Homo sapiens: one gene and its partners. The protein of the gene in region 1 purifies or fractionates together with the protein of each later gene. This does not show direct contact. Each region holds a gene or a part of one and is shown in the gene's direction. Other genes may lie near its edges. The genes, in order: VAMP4, NAPA, STX12 and STX8.

The links.
Region 2: the proteins of VAMP4 (region 1) and NAPA purify together in Homo sapiens (affinity purification with mass spectrometry; 4 studies listed by BioGRID and IntAct, with this or other methods). This does not show direct contact.
Region 3: the proteins of VAMP4 (region 1) and STX12 purify together in Homo sapiens (affinity purification with mass spectrometry; 5 studies listed by BioGRID and IntAct, with this or other methods). This does not show direct contact.
Region 4: the proteins of VAMP4 (region 1) and STX8 purify together in Homo sapiens (co-immunoprecipitation; 4 studies listed by BioGRID and IntAct, with this or other methods). This does not show direct contact.

What each region holds. Positions count from the first base shown.
Region 1 is NC_000001.11:171,738,005-171,747,395, reverse strand, and holds the start of VAMP4 (vesicle-associated membrane protein 4), read left to right. Parts: upstream 1-5,330; 5' UTR 5,331-5,486; intron 5,487-8,932; 5' UTR 8,933-8,981; coding exon 8,982-9,047; intron 9,048-9,391. UniProt on the Homo sapiens protein: Involved in the pathway that functions to remove an inhibitor (probably synaptotagmin-4) of calcium-triggered exocytosis during the maturation of secretory granules.
Region 2 is NC_000019.10:47,486,171-47,491,443, reverse strand, and holds the end of NAPA (alpha-soluble NSF attachment protein), read left to right. Parts: intron 1-587; coding exon 588-656; intron 657-1,682; coding exon 1,683-1,733; intron 1,734-3,054; coding exon 3,055-3,156; 3' UTR 3,157-3,807; downstream 3,808-5,273. UniProt on the Homo sapiens protein: Required for vesicular transport between the endoplasmic reticulum and the Golgi apparatus. Together with GNA12 promotes CDH5 localization to plasma membrane.
Region 3 is NC_000001.11:27,810,513-27,818,924, forward strand, and holds part of STX12 (syntaxin-12), read left to right. Parts: intron 1-1,650; coding exon 1,651-1,756; intron 1,757-7,338; coding exon 7,339-7,411; intron 7,412-8,412. UniProt on the Homo sapiens protein: SNARE promoting fusion of transport vesicles with target membranes. Together with SNARE STX6, promotes movement of vesicles from endosomes to the cell membrane, and may therefore function in the endocytic recycling pathway.
Region 4 is NC_000017.11:9,571,988-9,580,495, reverse strand, and holds the start of STX8 (syntaxin-8), read left to right. Parts: upstream 1-4,675; 5' UTR 4,676-4,687; coding exon 4,688-4,704; intron 4,705-8,508. Other genes in the region: CFAP52 (cilia- and flagella-associated protein 52), read right to left, coding at 3,731-3,800. UniProt on the Homo sapiens protein: Vesicle trafficking protein that functions in the early secretory pathway, possibly by mediating retrograde transport from cis-Golgi membranes to the ER.

The sequences.
Region 1 (9,391 bases):
AATATTGTATCAATGTTAAATTTTCTGAATTTGACAACTGAATTACAGTTATGAAGACAATGTTCTTGTTCTTAGGAGATATCTAATGAAGTATTTAGGGGTAAAGAGGCATGATAGCTATAACTAATTTTCAAATAATGCATGCCGAGGGGAGATATAAATTTAAAGAGAAGTAATAAAGCAAACTTAGTGAAATGTTAACAAACCACGTAAACTCTCTGGCACTCTGTTTCTTCATCTACCTGGAGACAAAAAGAGGGCTGAACTATTTTGTTTTTATTCACACTGTCATGAAATCCATTTAGGAGTTGAGGTCAGCATTAGAAAAGCGTTATTAATGAATCTGGATAGAGGATTTAAAAGCATTCAAAATCAAAACTAAAATAAACTAATATCATATTTATATAACACCAAGGCACTCTAAGCATGAAAAGCTTATGGTTAACTACATGATATCTGTATACTTCTTCTCCAAACTAATTGAGTTACATGCTTACAAGAGTCAATTTGCATTTGTACTCCAAAGTATTTATGCCTATTATACTTATAGAATATATTTAAATATGTAAACTAATGAAATACAAATAGAAAGTTATTTTCTATAAAAACTAAATTGATAAACATGAACAACAAACAAAAATTACTATAGAACTAGGCACAGGTAAGACAAACCTGTAAAACTTTGGAGAAAAAATTGTACAAAAATCTAGACTGACTGGGCATTCAAATTGCTTGAAAGGTGTCTTTAACTTCTTATTCCACTTTGAAGAAAATGAAACTGTAAACTGTAAACAATGCAACTTGTAACAAAGACAAAGCAGGTGTTCCAACCAGCAAATTCATGCTCAGATAAAAGGTCTTGGGCCTACTACCAAGACTGGTGAGTGAACATATACATTTGAGTCAAAATAAAATGACTAAAGTATATATTTGCCATTTTTAAATATGTACCACTGTAACTGACTTTTTAAATTAACTGGTCCAGTGGTCCCAATTTTAGGGGAAGAGAGTGCCTCTACCATTGTTTTAATTGAAAAACTGATATACATGGTAAAGATATTCCAATAGTACAAAACACTACACATCAAGAAAGTTTCCCTTCTGTATTAGTCTTCTAGGGCTGCTATAATGAAATACCATGGACTAGGTGGCTTAACTACAGAAATTTATTTTCTCACAGTCCTAGAGGCTAAAAGTCCAGGATCAAGGAGTCATCAGGGTTGGCTTATGGTGTGGCCTCTCTTTCTGGACTGCAAATGGCCATCTTCTGTGTTCTCATATGGCCTCTTCTCTGTGCCCATGCACTCAGACACTAGCCCTACAGGATTAGGGTTTTGCCTTTTTGATTTCATTTAACCTTAATTATTGTCCTAAAGGCCCTATCTCCAAATCTAGTCACACTGGAAGTTAAGACTTCAACATATGAATTTTGAGGGGACATAATTCAGTCCATAACACTTTCCATGCCAGATTCACAGTCCTCCTGGTGTGTGTGTGTGTGTGTGTGTGTGTGTGTGTGTGATGCTCAAATGGAAGTAGAGTCTACACACTATTTTGCACCTTACTTTTCTCACCTTATAGCATCATAGAGGTATTCCATGTCAGCACATATAGATCTATCTAGTTCATTTTAATGGCTGCATACTATTCTATTGAATGGCTAGACTATGACTCATTTCAGCAATTTCCTATTGCTGAACATTTAGAGTTTTTTTTTTCACTCTGTTACAAAAATCCTGTAACAGATATTTTTATAGAATACTTTTATATACAACCTGTATACCCATGGGATAAATTTTAGAAGTAAAATTATTAGATCAAAAAGAACTTCATATAAAATTTTGATACATATAATTACCATGAAATTTTTAAAAATGCACCAATTTTTATACTCTTACTGTTTAAGAATGCTTGTTCCTCCCACGCTGCTCCCATACCACACATACACACACCCAATATTGTAGTATCAAATTTTTTTTATTTTTGCTATTGAGCTAACACAAAAGATCAAACTGTCAAATCAGGCTCAAATCAGAGATTTTACTCAGTATCAAGCTTTACTAATAGTTTCAAGGATACCAGTAATCCCCAGGTCCTTTCTTCTTGCTTTGGATGCATCCTGGCCCAGGACAGTAGATGTGGTTTCTAAATCAAGTGTACAGTCACCCCACTTACACAGAAGGAGCCAAATCAGTTACAAAACACTTCCATTTTATGCTACGTTACATAACTTCCGCGGTATTTTCCAGTTAATCATACCCCTGAAATCCGCATTGATTCTTTTTTGTTTTGTGAGAGGGAGTCTCATTCTGTTGACCAGGATGGAGGGCGGTGGCGCGATCTCTGCTCACTGCAACCTCCGCATCTCCAGTGCAAGCTATTCTTCTGCCTCAGCCTCCTGAGTAGCTGGTGTTACAAGTGTACACCACCACACTCAGCTAATTTTTGTAGTTTTGGTAGAGACGGGGTTTTGCCATGTTGGCCAGGCTGGTAACTCCTGACCTCAAGTGATCCACCTGCCTCAGCCTCCCAAAGTGCTGGAATTACCACATCGATTCTTAATGTGTTTACCATAAACAATCCCAGCCCTGGGACATCCTGTTAGAGGAATTCCGTAAATATGGACTCTCTTGCTAGCAAATGCCATTAGTTTGTTTGCCAGGAGGTCTGTAATTAGTATATACTTTATATTTTATAAAAATCACATGCTTTTTTGCTTGCTTTAACCTTGCTTTCCTGAGAGTATTTCCCTACGAAGGGAGAGACTGGATTGCAGATCTTCTGCTCAACTCCTTCTTTCTCAGTCACTGATAGATGAAAAATGGTATTTCCTTGTTCACTTTTACATTTTAAGTAATGTTGAACATTTAGCAACAAAATATTGAAAGCTAGAAGGGAGATGAATCAAGATGCAATTGCCTTAGCAGACTTGAAAAGTAGGAATCCCAAGCAGGCCATGAAGCAACCTGATACACACAGTGAAACCCTGTATAAGGCTCAGGAATTGGAAACACCACGTAAAGCTGAAGAGAGCATGATGTGAGCTATAAATACAGGCGGAATGGTATAAAGTCTGTTTAAGAATGAATCAGATGCTGAGATTCCCTTTGCTATCCCATCAAAAACCCAGAGATTTAGTCCTGAAAGACAGCAAAACGCTGATTCTCTAGCTAGGAGGACAGCAGGCCCTCTTAAGGATGAAGGTGTCATGTTGAAAAAGGGGAAAAGAAAATTAGAGGACTAACATCTGAATAACTGAAGCTCACTAAAAAGAAAATGGAGGAAATAAGTAACTCAAGTTGCTTGGAGTTCTGACTCTAAGCTCAGTGCTATTATAATCTTTTAGGCTTACTGGTATATTTGATTCATGTTAACTGTAAAATGACATTTTCTAAGTTTCACAAATATTGGGGTTAGTCAAAGGGACTTTGTTCAGGTGATTAAGGGTGGGGCTTGCATTACCCCTCTCCTAAGCGATCATTCCAAAATGACTGGCAGGACTAAAGAATTATGTTTAAAAAACAAAAAAACCCAAAGAATGGATTATCTGTAAAAGCTATGCAATGACGTGCCTGTTAGAGCTCACTGACCACACCTTAAGTTGTCTAAGAGATGAGGCTATAACTAGCTAAACTCTAATTGGCTAAGGCACCAAAGCCAGAAAATAGCCCATAACATGCAAATATACAGACATAAAATCAACTGTAAGTGCTGGGCACAGCTGCTCATGCCTGTAATCCCAGCTACTTGGGAGGCAGAGGCAGGAAGATCACTTTAGCTCAGGAGTTCAGAGCTGCTGTGCGCTATGATTGTGTCACTGCACTCCAGCCTGGGGGAAGAAGTGAGACTTCATCTCAAAAAAAAAAAAAAGATCAGCTGTAGAAGAAAAAATAATGTCAGGGTTACCTGTGGAGTCTGGGGGTAGACCCACTATCACACCTAGACAGGGATACAAACCATGAGAGGCTTCTCTTCTAAGTGGGCCGTTTCAGTCCAAGTTGCTGACTTGGACAGCAACTTGGACTGAATAAACACAGGCAACTGAGTTTAGCATTAAGCTTTCAGAACCTTCAACTGACAACTCAACGGCTGTTTCTAAATCTCAGAACATTTAAATCAGAATCTAGGTAGCACGTGGGCACCTACGTAGTTTTAAAAGCTTTCCAAGTGATTCAACTCCAAGTGAATCAGAGTGGAGCATCGTTGCCTTAGTCATGGCATCTTTCAAATTCGTTAGTACATTTTTACATAAAAATAAACATCAAACAAAAGAAGAACAACTTTTTGGTAAGAGGGTGTCTATTCTTTCCTTTCCTTTAGTGTCCGCAGATCTTTCCTCCTGCTGTTTTCTTGTCTACTCTTGTTCTTGAACACCCCCTCTTATTTTTATGTCTTTAGAAAGTGCCTGGCACAGTATTTCAGACAGTTAAAATACTGTATCAACAAAGGACCCATAGATACTGTATTAATTTTAAAAGATGTGTAGTGAATATGATTCAATGAGTAAAATAATCCAGCTGGGGCGTGGGAGGAACGGATAATAAAACAAATAAGAGAACGGAAAAACAAAATTAGGAATTGTTTCTGGTAGACAGCTACTGCGGGCGTGGAGATCTAAACATGATACCAAATTGGGCGGAGGGGGAGGGAGTGAGGAAGGAATGGGCAGAGTGGCGGAATGGCCTGGCGAGGGCGATTTCCTGAAGGCTTTCAGGTTACAACTAAGGGATACCGGGAAAAGAACACCGAGCCCTCGTCCCGTATCTATCTAAACTAGCCGTGTTAACTTTAAGTCAATCTCCTCTCTGAACCAGATATTCCTCCTATCTAAAGGGAGGAGCCTGGCCTTAACATCTCTTTCCAAGTCTAGCTCTAATTCTGTAAACAGGGGATCAAACAGATCTCCTTTCTTCAGAAAAGGCCCCAGACGAACCCGAAGCAGGTCCTCGAGCTGCGAGCCACTCTCCACTTGCCACTCAACGTAGTCAGCCAGAGGGACGGATGTGCCACCAAGCACCACCTTCTTTCTAACGCCTCATCACCCCAGCCACGCACTCCGGCGCGGCGCCCAGTCCCGAGCGGTTCTCGGAAGTTTCCCACTCCTCCCCTAATCGCCCTCCACGCACGCCGGATCACGACCGGAACGTGGACAACCAGTGGTTGTTCCTCCCCTAAAGCACAGCATAAATTTGGAGAGATGCATCTAAACTGCGTGTGGGTTCGGGCTCTTTTAGGTGAATAGGGCTCGGCGGATCGACTTCCTCGATTATCTCCGTGCCCTGGACCCGCCCCCTCCGCCTGGCGCCAGGCCGCCGAGCGCCGATCGGCTCGATGAGCGGAGGCGCTGCTGCGGCGCTGCGGCCGACGCCGGGTCCGCACCAACTGTCTCCCCCTCCCAGCTTCTTACCTCGGCTTCCTACTCCTTCCCCCGCCCGCCCAGCACCGCCAGCCCGGGAGAGCTGCCGGGAGTTCCCCGGGAGCCTCAGGTACTGGCGCTGGCCTGTTCGCAGCGGGAGGGGCTGGTGTGAGGAGGAAGGAAACGAAGAAGACGCCCCTGCCTTGCCGCCCCCCGACGTCCTAGTCGGGCTGGTCGGCGGGCCTCGGGGATCTAGGAAGGGACCCCGGAGTGGGAAAAGGTTGGGGCCGGGGGTGCCGTGAGGAAGGAAGACGAGGACAGGGGTATGCGGACGAGGAGCAGTTGAGGGAGAGAAGAATTGGAATTGAGGGGTACTCTGGGGTGATGGGAAGAGAACAGTACCATGGATGGGGAAGGTTTGTTAAGAGTGGGATGTAGTGAGGAATTCCAGGGGGTACAATGGGGCAGGAAGGGCCAGCGTTAGGAGCAGATATATCGTGGGACGTGGCCTGGTGTGACAGATTGGGTGTGGGGGGTGAACGGAGCTGCCTGAAATTGTGTATTTAAAGGGCCCGGGGGAAAGAGCGCCAACCCTGCTGTGTTTATAATGACCGGAAGGTGGGGGTGAATCGTTACACTTGACAGGTTTTGCAAATAATATCTCCGGTCTGTGTCCATCCAAGTCACTTTATTTCTGTGAAACTGCATCAAGCAAGAAGGCTGATGACAGACAAGGAAGACGAATCAGAAAGAGAATGGAGGCTGGGAAAAGGAGAGCCTTTGCCCAGATTCAAAGCTATTGACTAGATAACGTACTACTTACAAAAACGCACACATAGACATTTAAGTATATGCTGATGTATAAGAAGCATACGGTGATGTGACTCATTTGAGTGAATTGTATAGTGGTGGTCTATCCTCAATGTGGAAGTACATGATGGCTCTCTTATTTACATGTATACCTAGTCACAAACAGCTGAATTCACATGTCTTTTTTTGTAGGAGAAATCTTAGGCAGACTATATCCTAGTCTACTTTCTGAGCATGATTTATTTCTACTAGTTGTTTGATACACATATCAGTTACTAATAATCAGTTGCAAATAACATCAAAGTTCATCAAGGTAGCTAATTAATCTGCCTACTGCTTTGCTGATGGGCTATTTGTTGCACATGGTTTCTTGGGATTAAGAGACCTGAATATGGTGTTTGCTCATCCTTAAGATTGTAGTTTTACTGTATGTCTTATAAAGGCATTATATAAGTCTGCCCGTTGTTTGCTTTGGGATGTTGAGGCAGCCTCATTGCAGGGGTTAAAATCTAAATACAGATAATAGTTAAAAGCACAAGTTCTTCAGTAATTTGCCTTGTCATCTGTTTTTCCATGCATTCTGTTACATTTCTGCATGAATGAAGTATTCTGACATCAAAGTATGAGGAATAAAAGGGCCAGATGTATGTGACAGAAATATTGTGGAACCAAGAACTCAAGAGCTGTTACTCAGGCAGCAAGAATTTGGTTTTTGTTACAAGTGAATAATTTCTGATTTGGAAGCATTTCTTATCAAAGAAAAGTGTGTCCTTTGGTTTTGACAAGCAGCTGACTTAAAACATTACTTTTATTTGGTTCGTGAAGCCAGATCCTGGGATTATTCTTTTTTAAGTGTATATCATTAACAAACAAACTGATGTCTAACTATACCTAATTTAAAGGTCTAAGTGTTTCTTCTTATGGAAAAGGAAGCAGGACTATTGGGTTGTTAGCAGGAAGTGAGTCTTTCTAGAACAGAATTCTGTAAACCTGATGGGCAACTAATTGAACAAATGATTAAAACTGATAATGCACAGCCATTGATTAATTTAGGCCTGTATCTCTGCTGTTTCAATGAATGTAGTGACTAACGTTATCGTTACTAAACTTTAGTTTTCTCCTAGTTTCTTGGTGCCTACTTTAAAGAAGCATCATAAAGAGTAAAAGAAAATGCATGTGTATCACTGAGCACCGTGCCTAGCACATAGTAAAACATTCAGTATTTCTGAGCTATCCTGAATTGATGGGTATTCATCTACCATCTAGTCAAAAATACTGAAAATTCATTATTTGCATAGAAGAACTTTTTCGCAAAAAAAAATTTTAGTATGTTGCATACACAAGCATTTTCCTGGAAAGTCACAATGCATATTAGCATATAACAGGATGTGAGTCATTCTGTAGCAAAGAAAACTAGCTTTGTTTAATCCAGTTGTTTTGATAGAAAAAAATTGAGTTTCTCCTATTCTCTCTCAACACAGACCCCCAAAAGATTTCTCCTCACAAGCAAGGAGGAAATTCTGCAGCAGATTCTCCAGCTGGGTGTCCTCTAATTCAATTCTGATACTGTATACCTAGAGATAGCATCAGATCCTGCAGGTTGAGGGCTTAATCCTACAAGATTCCCCCCACTTCAGGTGCCAATCACAAGTTCCAGGTTGTTTTACCTGTGTTTCCAACTGACTGGCTATAAATCAGAGTTCCCACAATCCCTTCCTTGTGTTCAGTTTATTTGCTAGAGTGGCTTACAGAATTAAGAGAAACACTTTGTTTACTGGTTTATTATAAAGGATAGAGATCAACAGCCAGATGGAAGAGGTGCATAGGGCAAGGGGTACAGAGCTTCTGTGCCCTCTCCAGGTGTGCCACCGTCCAGGAACTCTCTACTTGTTCAGCTTTTGGGAAGCTCTCTGAACCCTGTCCTTTTTGGGTTTTATGGAGTCTTCCTTAGTAGGCATGATTGATTACATCATTGGCTATTAGAAATCAGTTCAACCTTGAGCCCTCCTCCCCTTCCAGGAAGCTAGGGGGTGGGGCTGTAAAGTCCCAGTCTTCTAATCATGCCTAGGTTTTTCTGTGACCAGCCTCCATCTGGAATCTATCTGGGGGCTAAGCTACCAGTCATCTTATTAGCATACACAAGACACATCACTGCAGCGATTCCAAGGATATGTCAGGAAATGGGGATTAAGACCAAATGAGTATATTTTGTAAATCACGATATCACACCAGTACTTACCAAACTTACCCCTTTTCATGGAGTACCAATGGGACATTATAGTTTGCAGAATATTTTTGCATGTATTATCCAATTTGACCGTCCCAACTCTGCAGAAGCCTGAAAATCAGTATTTTACACCTGAGGAAACTGAATCATTGCTTAAGCAACCAACTAAAAGTGAGAGAAATAGGCATGTTCTCCTGTCTTCTGACTCCAACTTTAAATTGTAAAGCATTTAATGTCTCAGTGAGACGTCCTCCCTCTACTCTCTGCTCTTTCATTTTATAAAAATCTTAAATCACTCATATCCTACACATGTTCTCTTAGGGCAATTACATCCATTTTCTCATAATTTTAACTATTTCTTAGGTGTTGAGGTCTAGCATGGAGGCCCCAGTCACTGGAGTGGAACAAGTGAGAGGGCAGGAATTGAAGTCAGAAAAATGAGGGAGTCCCTGTCATACAGGGTTTCATGTACACTGTTTTAAGTACATTAGCTTATGCCCCAAAGTCTCAAATCTGATGAAATTTATTTTCTCTTTAAGGTGGTGACTATCCTGTTGAGAAGCAAAAGATACTTTGCAAGTAAAAAATATGCCTCCCAAGTTTAAGCGCCACCTCAATGATGATGATGTCACAGGTTCTGTGAAAAGTGAAAGGGTAAGTTCGGAATCTTAAGCTTTAAAAACAAAAGATTCAAAATATGTTTTCATTCCCTTTGTGAATAATAGAAGAAAAACCATCCGGGCGTGGTTGCTCATGCCTGCAATCGCCGCACTTGGGACGCTGAAGCAGAATAGCTTGAGCCCAGAAGTTCAAGACTGTCTTGGACAACCCAGGGAGACCCTGTCTCTATAAATAATTTTTAAAAAATTAATGGGGCATGGTAGCACATGCCTATGGTTCCAGCTATTCAAGAGGCTAAGGCAGGAGGATCACCTGAGCCTGGGAGATGAAGGCTGTGGTGAACTGTGATCTGCACTCCAGCCTGAGCAACAGAGCAA
Region 2 (5,273 bases), on another chromosome or scaffold:
GGAGTCCAGGATTTCCTGGTGTCCCTGGCTCACGGCCTGGGGTGGTGGCCCCACACACCCCACACACACACACCCCACAGAGCCCTGCCCTGCTGTGGGCACCGGTGGTGGGCAAAAGCTTGGGCTTTGTCAGACCAGGTTCCCATTCCCACCCCATGTCTCACCGTGCCCTGGGCAGGTCACTGCCCCTCTCTGGATCTGTTTCCTCACTTTGAAAAGGGGGCTCACCGTCATTTGACCCTCTCAGGGTCCTCAAGAAGCACCAGCCCCAGGCCTGGCATGGAGGATGTGCTCATTTGTCCCCTGCCCCAGCTGAGCCAGGTGGGAGGAGGCAGTGGGTGCCTATCTGGGGAACCTTCCCCCTCCACCCACCTCTCCCTGCAGCCATCTCTGCAGCCAGGCTGGTGCTGAGCTCAGCTACGGGAAGGTACTGACAGACACAGAGCCAGGTGACACCTGAGGCTGGGGGAGGGGTGCAAGAGCTGACTCAATATCACCCGACATCCCCAAGTCCCCTCAGCTGCTAGGCCAGTAGCTCTGAGGACCCTCTTGTTACTAACTCATCTTCTCCCTTCCCTGCTGCCCAGCTGGCTGTCCAAAAGTATGAGGAGCTGTTCCCAGCTTTCTCTGATTCCCGGGAATGCAAGTTGATGAAAGTAAGTGCTGGGTGCTCCGGCCTCCCCCTTCCCGAACCTCAGACGGGGGTGGCTGGGGCTCCAGGTGGGACAATCGCCAAGACTTGTCCAGTAGTTCTCAGAGGGTGTCTTTGTTTTGTTTTGTTTTGTTTTGTTTTGTTTGGCCATTTGAGTCTCCATTTTCCAGATGAAGAAAGTACAACTCGGGGAGTGCTGGAGCTCAGGATGGCTAGGTGGACACACACACACACACTACACACACCACACCACACCACACACACCAAACATACACTACACACACCACACCACACACATCACACCACACCACACACACCAAACATACACTACACACACCACACCACACACATCACACCACACCACACACATCACACCACACGCTACACACACACCACCCCACACACCCCACACACACTACACACACACCACACACAGCAAACACATCACACACCACACATATCGCACACACACTACACACACACGACACACCCCTCACACAAAACACATTGCACAGTACACACACCACACGACACACCCCCCCACACACAAAACACACTGCACACACACCACACATGACACACCCCACACACACACATTGCACACACACTACACACACCACACACACCCCACACACACACCGAACACACCACACACGCAACTCAACACACACCAAACACCACACGTGCCCCTACACACCACACCCCAACACACACACCACACACACACACACCTCCACCACACACCACACCCAACACACACACCCCCCATACCCACACACACACACATTCTGTGTGATGTTCTATGTTGGTAAGGTTGCCCTGAGAGCAAGCCGTTTCTGATGAATAGGGCAGCAGGATCGCAACACGCCCGTACCCATCCCCAGTTTAACCCACACGGATTGACCCTCTGAGAGTCCTCAGGAAGCCCCAGCCCCAGGCCTGGCATACAGATAGCGTGTCCTTTCATCTAATCCAGGCCAGACCTCAGGTCAGCATAGGCCCCTGACCCCTCTCTGCCATTTGCTTGCAGAAATTGCTAGAGGCCCACGAGGAGCAGAATGTGGACAGCTACACCGAGTCGGTGAGTGGCCAGCATGGGGGGCCAGGCCCCTTCACGGGGATGGGTCTCCTAGGAAAGCTGCCCTTCTCAGACACGCTCTCCATGACATTCACCCATTTCATCTGGCCCCCAGCCCACTGTGAAGTTCTTTCTCCAGTCACCCCAGAAACCTTACAAGTAGCGCCAAGAGGCGCAGGGAGTGTTCTCCCCATTTTATAGATGGTGGCACTGAGGTTGGGGAGGTCAGGAGGCTCGGCCTTGGCCCCTCAGGGACAGAGCTGGTGTTCAGAGCCACATCTGTCTGCCTCTGAAGACCAGGGTTCCTTGAGTCCCCCAGGTGAGTGTGTGAGACTCACAGTGGGCGCCTTGGGCACCCAGGAGGCACAGACGGGGAGGGAAGGGGTGAGAAGGAGAGTGGAGCTGAGGACATGGGAGAGGTGCCAGCTTCCCTCTGCCTGGTGGAGCCGCCCACGCGGCTCTCTCTCCCTTCCCTTTCTCTGTTCCCAGCATTCCCGGGCTTAGTGGTGTCCGGCTCAGGTCCTGATTCACTCCTCTAATGGCACATGTCAAGCATTTCTCCCTAGGTGCCCCTTGGGAATGGAAGCCCCTAACTGAGGACAGTGAAAATGCCATCCTGTTCCTCCTGCCCCAGACAGTGGGTGGCAACTCAGCCAGGAGCTCAGGGAGGGGATGCCCAGCAGGCCGTGGCTTCTCTCCCCCGTGTCCCATGGCACTCAGGAGTGGCCTTTTCCATATCTCCAGGCCTCAGTTTCCCACCCATTCAGTGAGGATGCTGGACTTTTTTTTTTTTTTTTGAGACGGAGTCTCGCTCTGTCGCCCAGGCTGGAGTGCAGTGGCGTGATCTCGGCTCACTGCAAGCCCCGCCTCCCGGGTTCACGCCATTCTCCTGCCTCAGCCTCCCGAGTAGCTGGGACTACAGGCGCCCACCACCACGCCTGGCTAATTTTTTGTATTTTTAGTAGAGACGGGGTTTCACTGTTAGCCAGGATGGTCTCAATCTCCTGACCTCGTGATCCGCCCGCCTCAGCCTCCCAAAGTGCTGGTATTACAGGCGTGAGCTACTGCGCCCAGCCATGGACCTTTTTTTTTTTTTAAAGCTACAATATCTTTCTCCCCCAAGGGAAATGATGTGCCCAGCATAGTCAAGACAGACAAGAGGGAGCTCCCATGGCTGAGTTGGGGCCTCAAGCCCTCCCTCTACTCCTCCTCAGAGACCAGGGGTGACAGAGACAGATCTTGAAAACCTTGGGACAAGTGCCCTTGGGCTGCAGGGTTGGGAACGGGGGGAGCATGGCCAGCCTATCACCTGGTGTGCCCTCAGGTGAAGGAATACGACTCCATCTCCCGGCTGGACCAGTGGCTCACCACCATGCTGCTGCGCATCAAGAAGACCATCCAGGGCGATGAGGAGGACCTGCGCTAAGCCCCACCCAGCCCCCCAGTGCCCGTCTTCCTGTCCCATCTGCTCAGAGAGAGGTGGGGCCGAGACTTGCTGGAGAGCTTCCCTCCTTTCCCATCTGGGGAGTGCCGCGGGCCACAGTGGGCAGGTGGCACCGGGGGTCAGCATGCAGGGGCGCCAGAGGCCCAGGCTGCTGGCCGGACAGTCACCCTCTGTTCTCGCTACATCCCTTGCCCCCTGTCCATTTATTTAAGCCCCCATAGGTGCCCTTCACCCCCAAAACCAGCTGTACAGAATCTTTGATACAGACCTATTTGCTAGGGGTGCTGCCGGGGATTTGGGGTCAGCATCTGGCCCCCTATCTCCTGACCAGCTGAGTCATGAGGCCGGTTTCTCTCTCTCTCCCACTTTTGTCCCCCAGCCAAGCTCTAAAGCACATGTAGCCGCTGAGACCTGCTGTTTCTGCTGGGGGCAGGCTCCTCTTCCCCCAGCCCCGGGAGCCTCCCCCAGCTTCCTGCAGCCCCGACCTCTCAGGTTAGACCCTGGGCCCTGGAGCTTAGGGGATTCTCCCCACCCCAGCCCCACACCTGCTCCTTCCCTAATGCTTTGAGGTTTTCTTGGTTGGAAGCTGCAGCTGGCCCAAGAAAGAAAATAAAAAACAACACTTTTGCATGAGTCTCTCTTCCTCCTCACCTCTGCTACCCACTCTGCCCCTGGGCCAGTCACCAGTCCCTCTCACACTCCTGGTCCCCCAGACTCTGGGCGAGCTCTTGGGAGGTCAGGCGCATGCATCCTTGAAACACGTGTGGGCTGGGTCAGTTTCTAGGTGGGGGAGACCCAGGGACGGTGGGCCTGGGGAGGAGCTCTGGCTTGGGAGTCCCAGAGCGCCCATCTTGATCTTTCTCTGGGTTCTTGGGGTCCAGGGGCCTTGATTTCCTCAACTGGGATGCACGGTGGTGATGCCACCCCTCAGAGCCAGTGGGAGGGTCGAATGTGACGGTCCTCATGACTGCTTTGGATGAGAATGGGTGGAAGCCCACCGAATCTCCCATGTCCACATTTCTCTGGCAGGAAGGCTGAACGCCCCGGTGACAGTTGTTCCATCTGTCACAGGACGGGGGAGGAAGCGGCTTTGGTGGGCAGAGTCTGAGGCCCGAGTGGGTCTGGGGAGTGGGGGAGGAGATAGCAGGAGCCTTTGCCCAGGAAAGGTGGGCAGAAACCAGCTGCCTCCACCACACTCCACAATGTGCATGTTGGGGGCCCTGTCTGGTACACATGTGCTTTACCCTGCCCCGCGCAGGGCCCCTCGCTACAGAGGAGACAGCTGAAGGAGGCTCAGTGCCCAGGCATGATGGGAAAATGTCAGGAAGTGAGCAGGGGCAGTAATTGCACAGAGGAGGGGCTGCCTAGGAAACCAGGGTGGACTCCTGGGAGAGGGGCTCCAGCCCAGAAAGCCTAGAGAAGTGCAGGTGAGGTTCAAATTCCTTGACACCTGCCCTGCTCCTCTCTCCCCTGCAGCTTCTCCCACAGCTCCAGTCCACTGATAATGGCAGCAAAGACTTCTGAGACCTGAAATTGATTACCATGTCTGCCCCCATCATGGGTGCTGGCTGAAGGATAGTGTGAGAATCTGTTTCTGTCATCCATGACCTAAATCAGTGATGGTCCGCCCTGGCTATGCTTTAAAGTCATTAAAAGTATCCAGACTTGGGGCTGGGTGCTGTGGCTCATGCCTGTAATCGTAGCACTTTGGGAGGCCGAGGCAGGCGGATCACTTGAGGTCAAGAGTTCGAGAGCAGCCTAGCCAACATGGCAAAACCCTGTCTCTGCTAGAAATACAAAAATTAGGCATGATGGTGCAAAAATAAAAGTATCCAGACTGGGGCCGCACTCTGATAAATTGTGGTTTGACTGAGGTTTCCTACCCTTTGGGGGTTTTTGGGTTTGTTTTTTTTTTGAGACAGAGTCTCGCTCTATCGCCCAGGCTGGAGTGCAGTGGTGCGATCTTGGTTCACTGCAACCTCTGCCTCCCGGGTTCAAGCGATTCTCCTGCCTCAGTCTCCCGAGTAGCTGGGATTACAAGCGTGCGCCACCACGCCCAGCTAATTTTTGTATTTTTAGCAGAGACAGCGTTTCACCAT
Region 3 (8,412 bases), about 140 Mb from region 1:
GAAACCATTGATGTCTATGTGTTAAGCAGAGAGCTTGACTCCCTAGGAATAAGTATGAACCTACATGTCTACAGATTAGGAAGTCTAAGTCATCTTACCTCTAATGCAGATTTAAACCCATCAGAGTTCTTGGGTCTCTACTCATTTATAAAATGGAAGCAACTCATCCTTCTAGGAGTATTAAGAGGGAAACCAGACAATTTGTATCTGAATGATGTTCTTAACTTCTCCAAACTAATCACATGGAAGTGTATTTGTGGTATTAGTTCAGAACTTGATATGTTTTAGCATAGATACACATCCATCCCTCCCCACTACACTATGAGCACCTCAAAGGCTTGGGGACTCTGTCTTACTTAGTTTTGTATCTCTAGCACGAAGAGGACGTTATTTAAACATTGTAGGGGTGAAGTATGATTTATGATACTGATGGGAAAACACATAATAATGGAAAATTTCAAAGTGTTTTATATCTAGTATAATAAGTAATATGTTTTCCTTTTAAATGCTTGAAAATAAAGAGGCGTTGGGGCATGGTGGCTCAAGCCTGTAATCCCAGCACTTTGGGAGGCCGAGGCGGGTGGATCACCTGAGGTCAGGAGTTCGAGACCAGCCTGGCCAACATGGTGAAACCCCATCTCTACTAAAATACAAAAATGAGCTGAGTGTAGAGGCAGGTGCCTATAATCCCCACTACTCTCGAGGCTGAGGCAGGAGAATCTCTTGAACCCGGGGGGCGGAGTGAAGTAAGCGCCACTTCACTCCGGCCTGGATGAAAGAGCGAAACTCCGTCTCAAAAAAAAAAAAAAAAGCCAGGCATGGTGGCTCAAGCCTGTAATCACAGCACTTTGGCAGGTTGAGGCAGGAGGATAGCTTAAAGCCAGGAGTTTGAGACCAGCCTGGGCAACAAAGCAAGACCCCCATTTCTAAAAAGAATTTTTTAAAAAGTGTTATAACATTTCACTAGCTTTCTGTTAAGAGGGTTTTTTATGGATTGTTTTTTAATAGAGATGAGGGTTTTGCTATGTTAGCCAGGTTGGTCTTGAACTCCTGGCCTCAAGCAGTCCTCCTGCCTCGGCCTCCCAAAGTGCTAGGATTACAGGCATGAGCCACCGCGCCTGGCCTGTTAAGAGGTATTTAACCCAAAGCATAACCCCAAGGAAATTTTGGAAAACTAGGAGATGTGATTCTGTTGAACTAACTGGCAAAGCACTGATAGGTCACTTAGCTTGCTCTTCTCCACCCACTTAGTACTGAAGGTACTAATGCAGCTTGCACTTTGAGAGTGCCCTGGAAGATGATGGTGCAACATAATTCAATGAGTTCAAATCTCTGGCTACTTTCCTTGTCTGGCAAGCCCCAGTGAGATTACAGAGTATACCCCTAAATGGAAACAGCCAGGAGTCCCATCCGTCATAATTCTGCCACATGTCAGCTTTGCCCATGGAAGCTGAGTCTTTGTTTTCCTGATATCATCAGCTCTTTGCTTCTGGATATGAAGAATGTGGCCCTCCAAGACTTTATTGATAGCAGAGGACTGGAGCCCTGGTAATGTCTTTGCATAGGTTCTGCTGGCAGTAGAGATGTTGGAGATATGTCTTGTTATGCCTTTGAGAGGAGAAATCACCTAGTGTGCCTGTTTCCCTGCAGCCATGAGGAGTGGAACCAGATGCAGAGCCAGGAGGATGAGGTGGCCATCACTGAGCAGGATTTGGAACTTATTAAAGAAAGAGAAACGGCAATTCGGCAGCTGGAGGTGAGAGCCACGTCATGTTTTTTGTTTGACTCAGTGTGTCTGCAGGTATCTGAACTCCTTAGTTCACTTTAATTCTCTTAGTGATTATGAAAAGGCATAAAATGTGTCATTGTGTGATTTGTATTTTTTCTGTCTCAGTGTAATCATGGTGGGTTTGAACTACCGGTTTTTTTTGTTTTTTTTTTTATCTTGGATGGAATTTCGCTCTTGTTGCCCAGGCTGGAGTGCAGTGGTGTGATCTTGGCTCACTGCAACCTCTGCCTCCTGGGTTCGAGCGATTCTCCTGCCTCAGACTCTCGAGTAGCTGGGATTACAGGCATGTGCCACCACGCCCAGCTAATTTTGTATTTTTAGTAGAGACGGGGTTTCTCCATGTTGGTCAGGCTGGTCTTGAACTCACGACCTCAGGTGATCCACCCTCATCGGCCTCCCAAAGTGCTGGGATTACAGGCGTGAGTCACCGCTCCTGGCATGAACTACTGTTATAATGGCATTGGCCTTGGTGCCCAGGAGTACTCAAATCCTTTCCTCAATCACCACATCTTATACGGATCACCACATCTTATTTCTCCTGGAGAAATGTACATGGAGAACAGAACAAGGCAGACAGATATTTTATTGCTCATTAGAACTTTGACCTCAAATCTCAATGCCAACCTCCGGGTTAGGCAGGACTCCATGGAGAGCCCCTTTGCTTAGTCTGAAGAGCCCAGAATAAAGGCAGGCCAAAAGTCTTGCTCCATTTTTGTATATCCTAAAGTCTAATCCCAAGTTGTACATCTTATCCCTTCAGTGAGTCAGAGAAATAGGAACAGTTTTTGAGGTGGAGGTTGAGGGAGAAGTCTGTAGGCCTTTCTTACCTAACTGAGCTTTCAACTTTAATTTTGCACAGTGACTAATAAAATATCCTTTTTTTTTTTTTTCCGAGACTAAGTCTTGCTCTGTCGCCCAGGCAGGAGTGCAATGACACTATCTCAGCTTACTGCAGCCTCCCTCTCCTGGGTTCAAGTGATTCTCCTGCCTCAGCCTCCTGAATAGCCGAGACTACCAGTACGCACCACCACACTCGGCTAATTTTTGTATTTTTAGTAGAGACAGGGTTTTGCCATTTTGGCCAGGCTGGTCTTGAACTTCTGACCTCAAGTGATCTGCCTGCTTCAGCCTCCCAAAGTGCTGGGATTACTGGCATGAACCACTGTGCCCAGCTAAAATATCCTTAAACCTGAGTTTTCTCCAGTTTAGTTTTCTCCGAAGGTAGAAGGCTGCCATTGCTGGGATCAGGGGAGGAGAAAAGGAGAGAGGGAAATTTTGAGCTCTTCCTTGGCCTCCATCTGTAGCAGTGGTTCTGAACTGTGAGTGCACATGAGGATCACCTGGAGAAGATTTTTTTTTAATGCCCCAGCTCTCATCCACCACTAATTACCTGATGGGATAATGTGAAATTCCTGTTTATTATATGTTAAAAATGGGCAAATATCCATTATTTTATATGGTTCAAACTAATAAATCATAATTTCTGGGCGTGAGGCCCTGGGCATGGGTATTTTTTTAAAAAGTTCCCCCAGGTGATTATAATATGCAGCCAGGGTTGAGACCCACTGCCCTAAAGGCCATCAATGTCTGTTTTTATCTATTTATTATTTATTTTTTGAGTCAGAGTCTTACTCTGTCACCCAGGCAGGAGTGCAGTGGCGCGTTCTTGGCTCACTGCAACCTCCACTTCCTGGGTTCAAGCGATTCTCCTGCCTCAGCCTCCTGAGTAGCAAAGATTATAGGTGCCCGCCACCACTCCTGGCTAATTTTTGTATTTTTAGTAGAGACGAGGTTTTGCCATTTTGGCCAGGCTGGTCTTGTCTGTTTTTAGATGGGATAGTTTATCCTTAAGTTATGATTATTTTATTGCCTTCAAAAATGTCATATCTTTACTCTTTTTCACCTACTGCTACTACTAATTGAATTAATTGTCTAACATTAGAAATATGGCTAAGTGCAATGGCTCATGCCTGTAATCCCGGCAAGTTGGAGGCTGAGGCAGGATGATTGCTTGAGCCCAGGAATTCAAGACAGCCTGGGCAGTGTAGCAAGACCTTACCTCTACAAAAAATAAAAAATTAACCGGGTGCTGTAACATGTACCTGTGGTCCCAGCTACTCAGGAGCCTGAGGCAGAAGATCACTTGAGCCCAGGAGATCAAGGCTGCAGTGAGCCATGATCGTGCCACTGCAATCCAGCCTGGGCAACAGAGCAAGACTCTGTCTCAAATAATAATAATAATCCTTCCTTCAAAGAAAAATTACTAGCCGGGCGCGGTGGCTCATGCCTGTAATCCCAGCACTTTGGGAGGCTGAGGCGAGTGGCTCACCTGAGGTCTGGAGTTCAAGACCAGCCTGACCAACATGGTAAAACCCCGTGTCTACTAAAAACACAAAAAATTAGCCGGGTGTGGTGGTGCATGCCTGTAATTCCAGCTACTGGGGAGGCTGAGGCAGGAGAAGTGCTTGAACCTGGGAGGCGGAGGTTGCAGTGAGCAATTGCACTCCAGCCTGGCAACAGAGCGAGACTCTGTCTCAAAAAAAAAAAAAAAAATACAGTTGGCCCTCGATATATTTAGGTTTCACATCCTCAGACTCAAGCAACCGTGGAGTGAAAATATTTAAAAAAAACTAAAAAATAATACAACAATAAAAAATAATACAAATGTAAAAACCAATACAGTGTAACAGTATTTTATATAACACATTGTATTAGTTCAGTACATTACTAATACAATGTAAGTGCTATGTAAAATAGTAATGTAGTATAAAATAGTAATGTAACATTATATAAGTAATATAGAGATGATTTAGAATATAGGAGAGAATGGGCACAAGTTATATGCAAATACTATGCCATTTTATATCAGTGACTTAGAGGGAGGGAGTCCTGGAACCAATCCCCCACGGATACCAAGGGACGAATGTACCGTTATAGCAAAGTGGAGTGAGACATATGGAGCTAAGGAAAGAAATGTAATGGATGCCAGGGTATAATGGATCATTTCATATTCAACAGAGGAAAGTCCAAATTCCTTAGCCTAGGTTCAATTTTCGTATCTAGTAATTTCCAAACTCTGACATACACATTCTATGTTATGGCAAAGCTAGGTTATTTGCTCTTTAACTGAGTTGCCTTTCTGTTCATATGACCTCTCCTTTGCTTTAAGGCACAACTCATGTCTTACCTCTTCTGCAGAGTCTTCCTTTTCTCCACACCTTTCTATACCATTAATTCAGCCATTTCCTATATAGTACTCTTCCTTCTTATTTATTTTATTGTGCACTTATTCCCCACGTCCACCCCAGTTAGCTGTATTCACAGCAACTAGCAGACTACCCCAACTATGGTAGACTCTTAGCAAGTGATTGAAATGCTGACAAGACTTGCTTTAGCAGATAGTCCACTATAGTAGACTCTTAGCAAGTGATTGAAATGCTTGCCAGGTTATGATTCCAATAACCCTTCAAACCTGGAAGGGAATTGCCCTCAAATTTCCATAGGGTCATGCCCCATATGAGCACCCCTTTAATAAGACAGGTTTCCATTGTCTTTCTTCTGCCTGATCATGAGTCAGAAAAACTCAAATATAGGCCAGACGTGGTGGTTCACACCTGTAATCCCAGCACTTTGGGAGGCCGAGGCAGGCGGATCAGTTGAGGTCAGGAATTCGAGACCAGCCTGGCCAATGTGGTGAAACTCTGTCTCTACTAAAAATACAAAAATTAGGGCCGGGCACAGTACAAGCTCACGCCTGTAATCCCAGCACTTTGGGAGGCCAAAGTGGGTGGATCACCTGAGGTCAGGAGTTCGAGACCAGCCTGACCAACATGGTGAAACCCCATCTCTACTAAATATAAAGAATTAGCCAGGCATGGTGGTACATCCTGTAATCCCAGGTACCTGGGAGGCTGAGGCAGGAGAATTGCTTGAACCCAGGAGGCGGAAGTTGCAGTGAGCCGAGATTGCACCATTGCACTCCAGCCTAGCAACAAGAGTGAAACTCTACCTCAGAAAAAAAAAATAGCCGGGCGTGGTGGTGCACGACTGTAATCCCATCTACTGGGGAGGATGAGGCAGGAGAATCACTCAAACCCAGGGGATGGAGGTTGCAGGGAGTTGAGATTGTGCCACTGCACTCCAGCCTGGATGACAGAGCAAGACTCTGTCTCAAAAAAAACAAGTAATAAATAAAAATAAATAAAAAGAAAGAAGGGACGGAGGCTGGGCGCGGTGGATCATGCCTGTAATCCCAGCATTTTGGGAGGCCGAGGCAGGCGGATCAGGAAGGAAGGGAGGGAGGGAGGGATAGAGAGAGAAGGGAGGGAGGGAGGGAGGCCAGGCACAGTGACTCATGCCTGTAATCCCAGCACTTTGGGAGGCCAAGGCAGTGGATCACGATGTCAGGAGTTCAAGACCAGCCTGGCCAACATGGTGAAACCCCGTCTCTACTAAAAATAAAAAATTATCCGGGCGTGGTGGCATGGGCCTGTAATCCCAGCTACTCAGGAGGCTGAGGCAGGTGAATTGCTTGAATCCGGGAGGTGGAGGTTGCAGTGAGACGAGATTGTGCCACTGCACTCCAGCCTGGGTGACAGAGCAAGACTCTGTCTCAAAAAAAAAAGAAAGAGAAAGGAAGGAAAGAGAGAGGAGAAAGAAGGAAGGGAGGGAGGGAAAAAAGGAAGGAAGGGGAGGGAGGAAGGAAAGGAAAGGGAAGGGAGAGAGAGAGAAGGAAGGAAAGAGAGGGAGGGAGGAAGGAAGGAAGGAAAGAAGGAAGGAAAGAAAAGGAAGAAAAAAGAAAGGGAGGGAGAGAAGGAGGGAGGGAGGGAGAAAGACCCAAATATAGGGGATTTTGCCAATGTTAAATTCTTCCACTGCTGTTAGGAAAACAAGCTGCAGTTCAGCCCACTGAGCTGATTTGTGTTTACCTTCTTTGATCAGAGCAGTAAATAGGTTGTAGTCCATTCACTTTGGAACTGCTATCCACAGACCATCAGCTTTTTGTCAGTCAGTTGGGAGTTACCATAGGGCATTGTCCAGTGATGACAGAATCCAGCAACTCCTCACACAGTTCCAGAGTCAATCCCAGGGGAAAAGAGGCTCCTTACTTGTAGCTCCTCCTTGCATTCCTCAGATAGCATGATCTTGTATAAACATTTAAATTCTGTAGTCCAAAGTCCCAGTGGTTGTCATCGGGAGGCACTCAACAGGCTTTTGTCACAAGGCCTAGCAGTCTCCACATAGGGCTATCACACCAAGAATTTGTCTATATCAGCACTCCAGCCTTCTGCTGTACTGTTTGGACTTGGGCGCTCTTACTGGTTCTCATGTAGCATGTCCCATTAATGTTGCTTGAAGAGTGAGTTTATGTGCCTTCTGTTTTACAATATTGGGTAGGCAGCAATAGATTATTTTCTGTTTATGGAGAAAGCATGCTTTGTAGAGCCTTAAAAACACACGTGTTAATAGCTAAAACTTTAGGTACGTGAGGGAAACAAATCTTCTAACATGTTGCTTAATGTTAGTTAATTGTTTTTTGTCTTCCTTAGGCTGACATTTTGGATGTCAATCAGATATTTAAAGATTTGGCCATGATGATCCATGACCAGGGTGATCTGATTGGTATGTATTATTGATACCTTTAACCTCAAGGTGAGTTGATAGTATTTGGCATGCATCTGTAATCCCAGCTACTCAGAAGGCTGAGGCTGAAGCACCATCTAGGAGTTTGAAGCCAACCTGGGCAACATAATGAGAATTTGTCTCTTAAAAAAGAAAGAAAGAAAGAAAAAGGAGTTAGGCTAGGCGTGGTGGCTCAGGCCTGTAATCCCAGCACTTTGGGAAGCCCAAGCGGGCAGATCATGAGGTCAGGAGATGGAGACCATCCTGGCTCACACGGTGAAACCCGTCTCTACTAAAAATACAAAAAATTAGCTACGCCTGGTGGCATGCACCTGTAGTCCCAGCTACTCGGGAGGCTGAGGCAGGAGAATCCCTTGAACCCAGGAGGTGGAGGTTGCAGTGAGCCGAGATTGCGCCACTGTATTCCAGCCTGGGTGACAGAATGAGACTTCGTCTCAATTAAAAAAAAAAAAAAAATGGAGTTAGTCATATCAGCTATAGAGTTAAAGTATGTTTAGGAATGCCGTTTTAAAAATTACCAAATTTATTTTTCGTAGCAATTTTTTTATGTTATCAAATGTAGAAGTTAAATGAGGCCTCATGAATACTCAGTCCCATTGACTTCTTTGTACATCTTTGTTTAGAGAAATAGCTCTCAGCTTCCCAGCTTTTATCTCAACAAACTTGCAAAATTATGGGGTTAGTAACCCTTTTTTTTTTTTTGAGACGGAGTTTTGCTGTTGTTGCCCAGGCTGGAGTGCGATGGTGCGATCTTGGCTCACCACAACCTCCGCCTCCTGGGTTCAAACAATTCTGCTGCCTCAGCCTCCCGAGTAGCTGGGATTACAAGCATGTGCCACCACGCCCGCTAATTTTGTAGTTTTAGTAGAGACGGGGTTTCTCCATGTTGGTCAGGCTGGTCTTGAACTCTCGACCTCAGGTGATCTGCCCGCCTTGGCCTCCCAGGTGGTGGGATTACAGGCGTGAGCCACCACGCCTGG
Region 4 (8,508 bases), on another chromosome or scaffold:
GGCTGGTCTCAAACTCCTGGCCTCAAGGAATCTTCCTGCCTCAACCTCCCAAAGTGCTGGGATTACAGGTGTGAGCCACCGCACATGAACTTTAATAGCATTTTTAAGCTTTTTGAGCTAATAGCCATTTATATTTATTTACCTATTTACAGGGTCTGGCTTTTTTTTTTTTTTTTTAAGAAAGGTCCAGAGAGTAAATATTTTAGGCTTTGTGGGCAATATGGTCTCTTGAGACTACTCATCTCTGCTAGTGTGGTATAAAAGCAGCCATAGACAATACATAAACAAATGGGCATAGCTACATTCCAATAAAACTTTATTTACAAAAACAGGCAGTGGGCCAGATTTGGCCCATGGGCTATAGTTTGTAGACTCCTGATCTATTTTGTTGTTGTTGCTGTTTTTAGTTTACAAGAACTCTTTGTATACCATAATAGGAAAATCATGGGCTACCTACTCCAGTCAATGGATGAATGTGACCAAACCCTTAATAACTATAACTTTATTAAATGTTTTTAACACAAGTATATTTGGTTTGCTTAAATAATTAATTCCTGCCAAAATGCAATACCTACAAGTGTCAAGTACAGTTACATATTGATACCATAAAGTTAAAATTCAAGTTTAAGGCCAGTCGCAGTGGCTCACGCCTGTAATCCCAGCACTTTGGGAGGCCGAGGCGGGTGGATCACCTGAGGTCAGGAGTTCAAGACCAGCCTGGCCAACGTGGCGAAACACCGTGTCTATTAAAAATACAAAAATTAGCCAGGCGTGGTGGTGGATACCTGTAATCCCAGCTACTTGGGAGGCTGAGGCAGGAGAATCACTTGAACCCATGAGGCAGAGGTTGCAGTGAGCTGAGATCGCACCACTGCACTCCAGCCTGGGAGACAGGGTGAGACTCCATCTCAAAAACAAAATTCAAGTTGAATAATGTAACACTATAGTGAGTTTCAGTGTTGCAGTGAAAAAAGGGGCCTTGCTTTTGTTTCTAATTTGTTTCCATCTGAAATCTAAACTCAATCACTTGGCATTTAAGGCCTCTGAAATCTAATTCCAGCTTCTCTTTCCTGTGTTATCCTGCCAGTCCCTGATACTGAAGCCACCCCAAGCTATTTGCCGTTCTGCAACCAGGCCCTGCACTCTCCACTTTTCCTCCTCTGCCCCCCGCTATTGCTGTAACCCGAAATATTCTGCCTTCAATCTTTACCCGCTGACTCCTAGTCAAAATCTTCTCTCCCGAGCCTTATGAAAGTTCTGTCTTTTCTCTCTCTCCCTCTTTTTTTTAGAGCTAGTATAGTTTTTTAAAATAAACATTTTTCAGTGAAGACAAAATACAGAAAACTCAATCACTTTTGTAAACTAAAAATAAAATCATAAGCTCCCCAATCCCCACGCTGCCCCACCCCAGCCACTGACTGAACAGATCCCCTTTTGGACAAAGGGACCCCCAAAACACCTTAAAGCAGAGTTCCCAGCCTTGACGGAATGGGAGGTCAGACATGCCTCATTATACCCCCTCTCTTTTGTGGTTTAGACACAACTGATCAGCATTAATGTTAAAATAGAGATCATAAGATTGACAGACTGTGTGGCAATAAGATATCAAATTATAAACAGGACCTAAGGCCATGCACCCCTCCACCCTGTGGCTGGGTGTGGTGGCTCAAGCCTGTAATCCCAGCACTTTGGGAGGCCAAGGCGGGTGGATCACCTGAGGTCAGGAATTGGAGACTAGTCTGGCCAACTTGGTGAAACCCCGTCTCTACTAAGAATACAAAAATTAGCCAGGCGTGGTGGTGGGTGCTTATAATCCCAGCTACTCTGGAGGCTGAGGCAGGAGAATAGCTTGAATCCAGGAGGTGGAGGTTGCAGTGAGCCGAGATTGTGCCATTACACAACAGAGCGAGACTCCACCGTCTCAAAATAAATAAATAAAATAAACTATACACTGCCACAAGGTTTTTCTTTTTCTCTGGCAGCTAAACAAGCACTTATCTTGAGATAAGCAATATGAAAACAACTGCAACCTGTCCAGTTCATAGGCACTTACTAACTGAAGCCCTGTTCAACCCGCCATAAGAACAATTTTGATTGGACAACAGAGTGATTTCAGTAATGTTCTCCTGGCAAGAAGACCACTCACCACGGACTACCTCTGGCCAGTTTACTGAGGCTTCCCACTTAACGTGCCGTCATGTCCTGAAAAGGCCTTTTGACATATAGGACCTAATTGTAATACATTTAAATGTTAGGTCTCCATCCCAAGGTGAATATGAGTGATATATTACATCAATGTTTGTTCAATACACATGTGTTGGGACCACCTTCATGAGTATTCATAGCTCCTCCTATAACCTGTTGAATATGTATGTTTGTTTGTTTATTTATTTATTTATTTTTTGAGACGGAGTCTCGCTCTGTCCCCCAGGCTGGAGTGCAGTGGCGTGACCTTGGCTCACTGCAACCTCTGCCTCCCAAGTTCAAGTGATTCTCCTCCCTCAGCCTCTCAAGTAGCTGGGATTACAGGCACCTACCACCACGCCCGGATAATTTTTGTATTTTTAGTATAGATGGGATTTCACCATGTTGGACAGGATGGTCTCGAACTCCTGACCTCAGGTGATCTACCTGCCTTGGCCTCCCAAAGCGCTGGGATTACAGGCATGAGCCACTGCCCCCGGCCTCAGTTGCAGAGTTCTATGTGTGTGGTTCTACATTGGCTCAACAAGTGACATTATGCAACCCACTGTAGGCTGCTCAATTGTTTCTCAATGATCTTGTAACCAACTCTCAAGATATCTGATATCCGAAATGTATAAAGCACTCACTTTCTATTGGAGACTGTTAAAGTTAAACCAAGAGTCAAGAGCTAAGTCCTAGAGTATGCTTAAAACTTTAGACAGTGATTGTTCTGCATCCACATTCTTAAAGCTTTCAGGCATCACAACACACATTTTTGAAAAGTTTTGCTTCTCCTAAAATCTAATTCATTGTTTTCTCATCCCTCAAAAAACCAAAACCCCTCAAAACGAACAATAAAACCCCACAGCTTTTTCTTCCCAGAATCTTCAAAACAATAGGCAGTCACAAATAAGATTTCAGCGGAGCGGCCCAGTCCCTTTTTCTCTCCGCTTTAGCTCCCCCTGGCGTCCCCTTCCCCTTCTGTCCTGGTCTGAAATCCTCATCATTTAGAAACCTTCCTTAGGATTAGAGGACCAACAACATCCCCTCAGGGGGTTGCTCAAACACACGTTCCCTCCCAGCCCTTTCTCACTGGTACGCCAGTTGGGATTTTAGCAGATTTCCTAGCTGGTCCCAGGGGCCGACACAGACAGCATCCTTCTGTGTGGTTACGAAGGAGCCTAGGGCTTTGCGAGCGGCGTGGGGTTCAGAGCCAGGAAGGGCTGACCTAGTGGGAGAAGGGTTACAACCACCCGTACTCATCCGGCCCGCCTGGGGAAGAGGCATTTGGTCCCTTTTAGGTGCTGGCGCTTGTCCGAGCTGGTAAAAACCATCTCACTCCCTGAGGCTTGGATCGAGGAAGTGACTCTCCAAGGCCTTGGGGCAGGTCAGGCTGTGCGGGTCCTCCTGTGCGTGTCCCTGGCCAGGGCTCCTGCCGTTGTCCCACACTGCCTTTCAGGTGTCCCCGGTGTCTCACTATTCCTGTTTGCACTACACGTCCTCCGAATTCCTAAACCAGCCAGCCCAAAGATGCTGGAGGCCTCACCATTGAAGCCGATCACGGCGTCAAGTTCCAGCTCCGCCACTTGGGCCTCCGGCGAAATTTTGTTATCCATCCTTGGGAGGTTCTGATTACTTTGCTCTCCTCCCTAGTGGCTGCAGCGTCTTCTGGTCGTTATGGTAACGGACGAGCGCATGCGCTCCAGCTCCACGCCCGCGCAGAAACCCAGCCTGCCGAGTTCGAGTTCATTAGCATTCTTGGAAATGAAGGGGTATGGGGACTGGAAGAGAGATGGGGTGGGACTCCTCTTCTTTTTTTTTGTGCTATTTCTCTGGAAATTTAGGGGATGGCACTAACTGCGCAGAACTAATTCCTCCATCCCCTTGTGTAGAGTCTGTGACTTCTTAGTAACTCTAAAATCAAGCACCGAATGAATGGCATTTAAAAAATATGTAATCAGGCGTACAGGACTGATAGGAAGGCTGCTATAAAAAATATATATAATTGATACTTCTTTGGGCCCCTGTTTGGAGCAGTGTGAAAAAAATTTTAAAGATTTTTTAAAAAGCGTTGAGGTATAATTTACATATCATAAAGTTAACTTAAAGTAGGTTGTAGTGAGTTTACGCAGCGTGCAAGTCTCACCGCAATCTAGTGTTTTGTTTATTGTTTTGTTTTTGAAGCAGGATAAATTTTTAAGTAACTGCTACAGAGAGGTCTTGCAGCGCTCCCACCTTCCTGGGAAAATGCTTTGTTTCTATTTAACAATTTTAACTGAGCTTAGCAGTTCGCGTCTCTTGGTGGGAGTAGATTGCTCCAGTGTACTGTCCGCAGGGGAGCGCTTTGCTTTCTCTGATTATAGTTCTGAGGCCCTAGCTACTCACTTTGCAAACTCCAGGCTCCGGTCGCGCACGGGACGAACTGCGGGGAGTGAGCCGCGCGGGCCGCCGTAGTCAGCTGCTAAGAGCAGGAAGAGTCCGAGCGGCGGGCGGAGTCTGCAGGATGGCACCGGACCCCTGGTGAGTCCCGGGTGAGGGCGGCGGTGCGTGGAGGGACCTTCGGGGAGGCCGGGCTTCCGGAGAGCAGGCAATCACTTCGCATTGCCGCTGGTGGCCTTTCGGGATGAGGGGAGGGGCAGCGAGACCTTTCCTTTACTGAGGGGGCTCAGCCACATCCCGCCACACTTGGTCCTTGCAAGGGTGGCCCGGGAAGGAGACCAGGTGGTCCGCTGGAGAGCTGAGGACTTACGCCAAATCTCTGAATATTCCTTTAGCTTTTCTGGGCTGCATCTCGTTGCGGGGATTTCCCGCCCATCCTGGTTTTGGAGCTAGCTGGCTGGTGCAGGCTTCCCTGGACTCCTATAAAAGTGAAGTCGAAATAACGTTTTTGTAGCATGTCAGTCCATCCCGGTAAACCCCCTTATTTCACAGGTGGAGAAACCGAGGTTCAGAATCCATGGCCACCAGCCAGTTAGTAACCAGCTGGGGCTAAGACCTAGATCTTGGGGGCCCTTCCAGATACAGGAACCTGGGAGGGAAATTGTGCACTTGTTTATAAGGCATTTTGCACTTTCTTGAGTTAATATCATGAAGTCTTTTCCTTTAGCAGTAGCTTCTGCAGTAAAACAATAGCTGATAAGGGTGATTTATTTAGCAGTTAATCCCAAGGACTGCATGATGAAAGATGCAACTTTTGATCCCAAGGAACATATTGTTTGATCCCAAGGAACGTATTGTTATTGAACATAGACTTGACCTTTCTGCTTAATAATTAAAAACATATTACAGCTCTATAACGTTCTTGTTGGAATATGTGTCTTATGTTGTTATTTCTAATATAGTTTATAATTGTTTAAGTTGCCCACATCCTGGATATTAGAAGAATGGATTCCAAGAACAAAGTTGAGTTACCTGGAATCTAGGTTATTTGGGCCAATTATTTAATTTAGCATTTACTTTTTTAAACCTAATTTTAGGCCGGACGCGGTGGTGGCTCACGCCTGTAATCCCAGTACTTTGGGAGGCCGAGGCAGGCAGATCACCTGAGGTCGGGAGGTCGAGACCAGCCTGACCAACATGGAGAAACCCCGTCTCTACTAAAAATACAAAATTAGCCGGGCATGGTAGTACATGCCTGTAATCCCAGCTACTCGGGAGACTGAGGCAGGAGAATCGCTTGAACCCGGGAGGTGTAGGTTGTGGTGAGCTGAGATCGTGCCATTGCACTCCAGCCTGGGCAACACGAGCGAAACTCCGTCTCAAAAAAAAATAAAAAACCCCAAAATCCCTAATTTTAACAGTTATATACACCCCTTGATAGAGAATATTCAATTTAGAGAATATTGAAAATTTGCAAAAAGGAAAATAAATAGCATCTTTAACTCTATAATTTGGAAATAGCCATTAATGATTTTTTTACAATGAATTTGTTATTTTAATCTATATTTTTATATATATATATAATATAAACAGCATTTCTCTATGTCATTGGACATTCTTTGAAAGCATAACTTTCTTTTCTTCTTTTTTTTTTTTTTGAGACGGAGTCTTGCTCTGTCTGTCACCCAGGCTGGAGTGCAATGGCGCGATCATGGCTCACTGCAACCTCCACCTCCTGGGCTTAAGCAACTCTCCTGCCTCAGCCTCTGGAGTAGCTGGGACTACAGGCGCACGCAGCCACGCCCAGCTAATTTTTTGTATTTTAGTAGAGACAGGGTTTTACCGTGTTGCCTAGGCTGATCTTGAACTCCTGAGCTCAGGCAATCTGCCCGCCTTGGCCTCCCAAAGTGCTGGGATTACAGGTGTGAGCCACCGCACCTGGCCTCATAATTGTCTTATGTTGCAAAATAATGCATCACATGAATGACCATAATTTATTTTTCTCCTATTAGTTTTTTGTTTTTCTGATGTTTTGTTTTGTTTTATCATTGCAAAGGGAGTCCCTTTGTTCTATCTCTTATTTCCTTGGGCTCCCTGTCTAGAAGTAGGAATTAGAACTGTTGAAAGTGAAGCATTTATACTTTTTTTGTTATTCTCAATCAGTTTGACTAAGTGGCTTTCTCATTAGACTGTTGAAAGTGAAATAGAACTGTTGGGCTCAAGGGTATAAACATTTTTAAGGCCCTTGATACTGTGAACCCCAAAGTATCTGAGACAGGTCTCAGTCAATTTAGAAAGTTTATTTTGCCAAGGTTAAGAATGCACCCATGACACAGCCTCAGGAGGTTCTGAAGACCTGTGCCCAAGGTGGTTGGGGAACAGCTTGCTTTTATACAATTTAGGGAGAATAATACATGAATTAATACATGTAAGATTTATGATGGCTCAATCCAGAAGGGAGGGACACCTCGAAGGGCGTGGGGGGCTTCCAGGTCATAAGTAGATTGAAAAATTTTCTGATTGGCAATTGGTTGAGTTATTATCAATAGAAACGAATGTCTGGGTTATGATAAGGGGTAGTGGAGACCAAGATTTTATTATGCAAATGAAGCCTCTGGGTAGCAGGCTTTAGAGAGAATACATTGTAAGTGTTTCTTATCAGACTTAAGGTCTGTATTGACGTTAATGCTGGTTGGCTTTTCCTGAATTCCAAAAAGGAGGAGAGGATATATAATGAGGCATGTCTGATCCCCTCTTCCCATCATGGCCTGAACCAGTGTTTCAGGTTAACTTTGGAATGCCCTTGCCTTAGAGTAGGGGTCCGTTCAGATGGTTGCGGGGGTGGGGGGGGGTGTTGGGGGTGGGCTTAGAATTTTATTTTGGTTTACAATACATATTCCTAAGTTGCCCTCCACCTTCTGGAACCTAAATCCCTCAGTTTACAAATCAAGTAGGAAATAAAGGTCAAAGATAAGGGACAGGCCCCCAGTTATCTATTTAGATTGGTGGAAGCTATCACTGGACCCCAAGCTTCTTCCGCAGTTAATGTTGATAAAGCATTGAGACTTTTTCTGTTATACTTCATTAGTTTGATGAAGTGGCTTTCTCATTGGACTATTGAGAGTGAAACAGTGAGACACTCAGCTGTGCTCCCAAAGCACAAAATGGGTCGCTGATTAGGGGGGTAGAAAGGAGTATGGGAAGGGACTTGAAAAACCTATAAAAGGCCAGGTGTGGTGGCTCACACCTGTAATCCTAGCACTTTGGGAGGCTGAGGCAGGCGGATCATAAGGTCAGGAGTTCGAGACCAGCCTGACCAACATGGTGAAACCCCGTCTCTACTAAAAACGCAAAAATTAGCTGGGCATGTTGGTGTGTACCTGTAATCCCAGCTACTCAGGAGGCTGAGGCAGGAGAATCACTTGAACCCAGGAGGTGGAGGTTGCAGTGAGCCGAGATTGCGCCACTGCACTTCAGCCTGGGCGACAGAGCGAGACTCCATGTCAAAACAAAACAAAACAAACAAACAAAAACAACCTATAAAAACAGATTCAACTACAGCTTTACCTTTGTGTTGCTAAAATCATAGGTCATTGGCACCTCCCTCAGTGTCTAGCAATGGAATATAGCAGTTACTATTTTAATGGCCTATCAAAGCAAGTGGTAAGCTCGCTGTTTAACAGAAGGAGCCCATGATCACTGTCTCTGAACTGGCTCTTTGCTAATGTTAATTAGCTTTACCTCCAGGGTAACTAATTTGTTGATGATGTACCATTTCCAGAAAAATTACAGTTAAACCTTAATAGTTTTATATCCTGATTGGACTTTTTATGTTGGTAGCATGGTCTTCTTTGTGTTGAATTGCTTTTTAAAAACTTTATTTTGGAAGGTAAAAGATACACAAACTAGAATAGTATAATGGGCCCCTTTCATACTCACCACCCA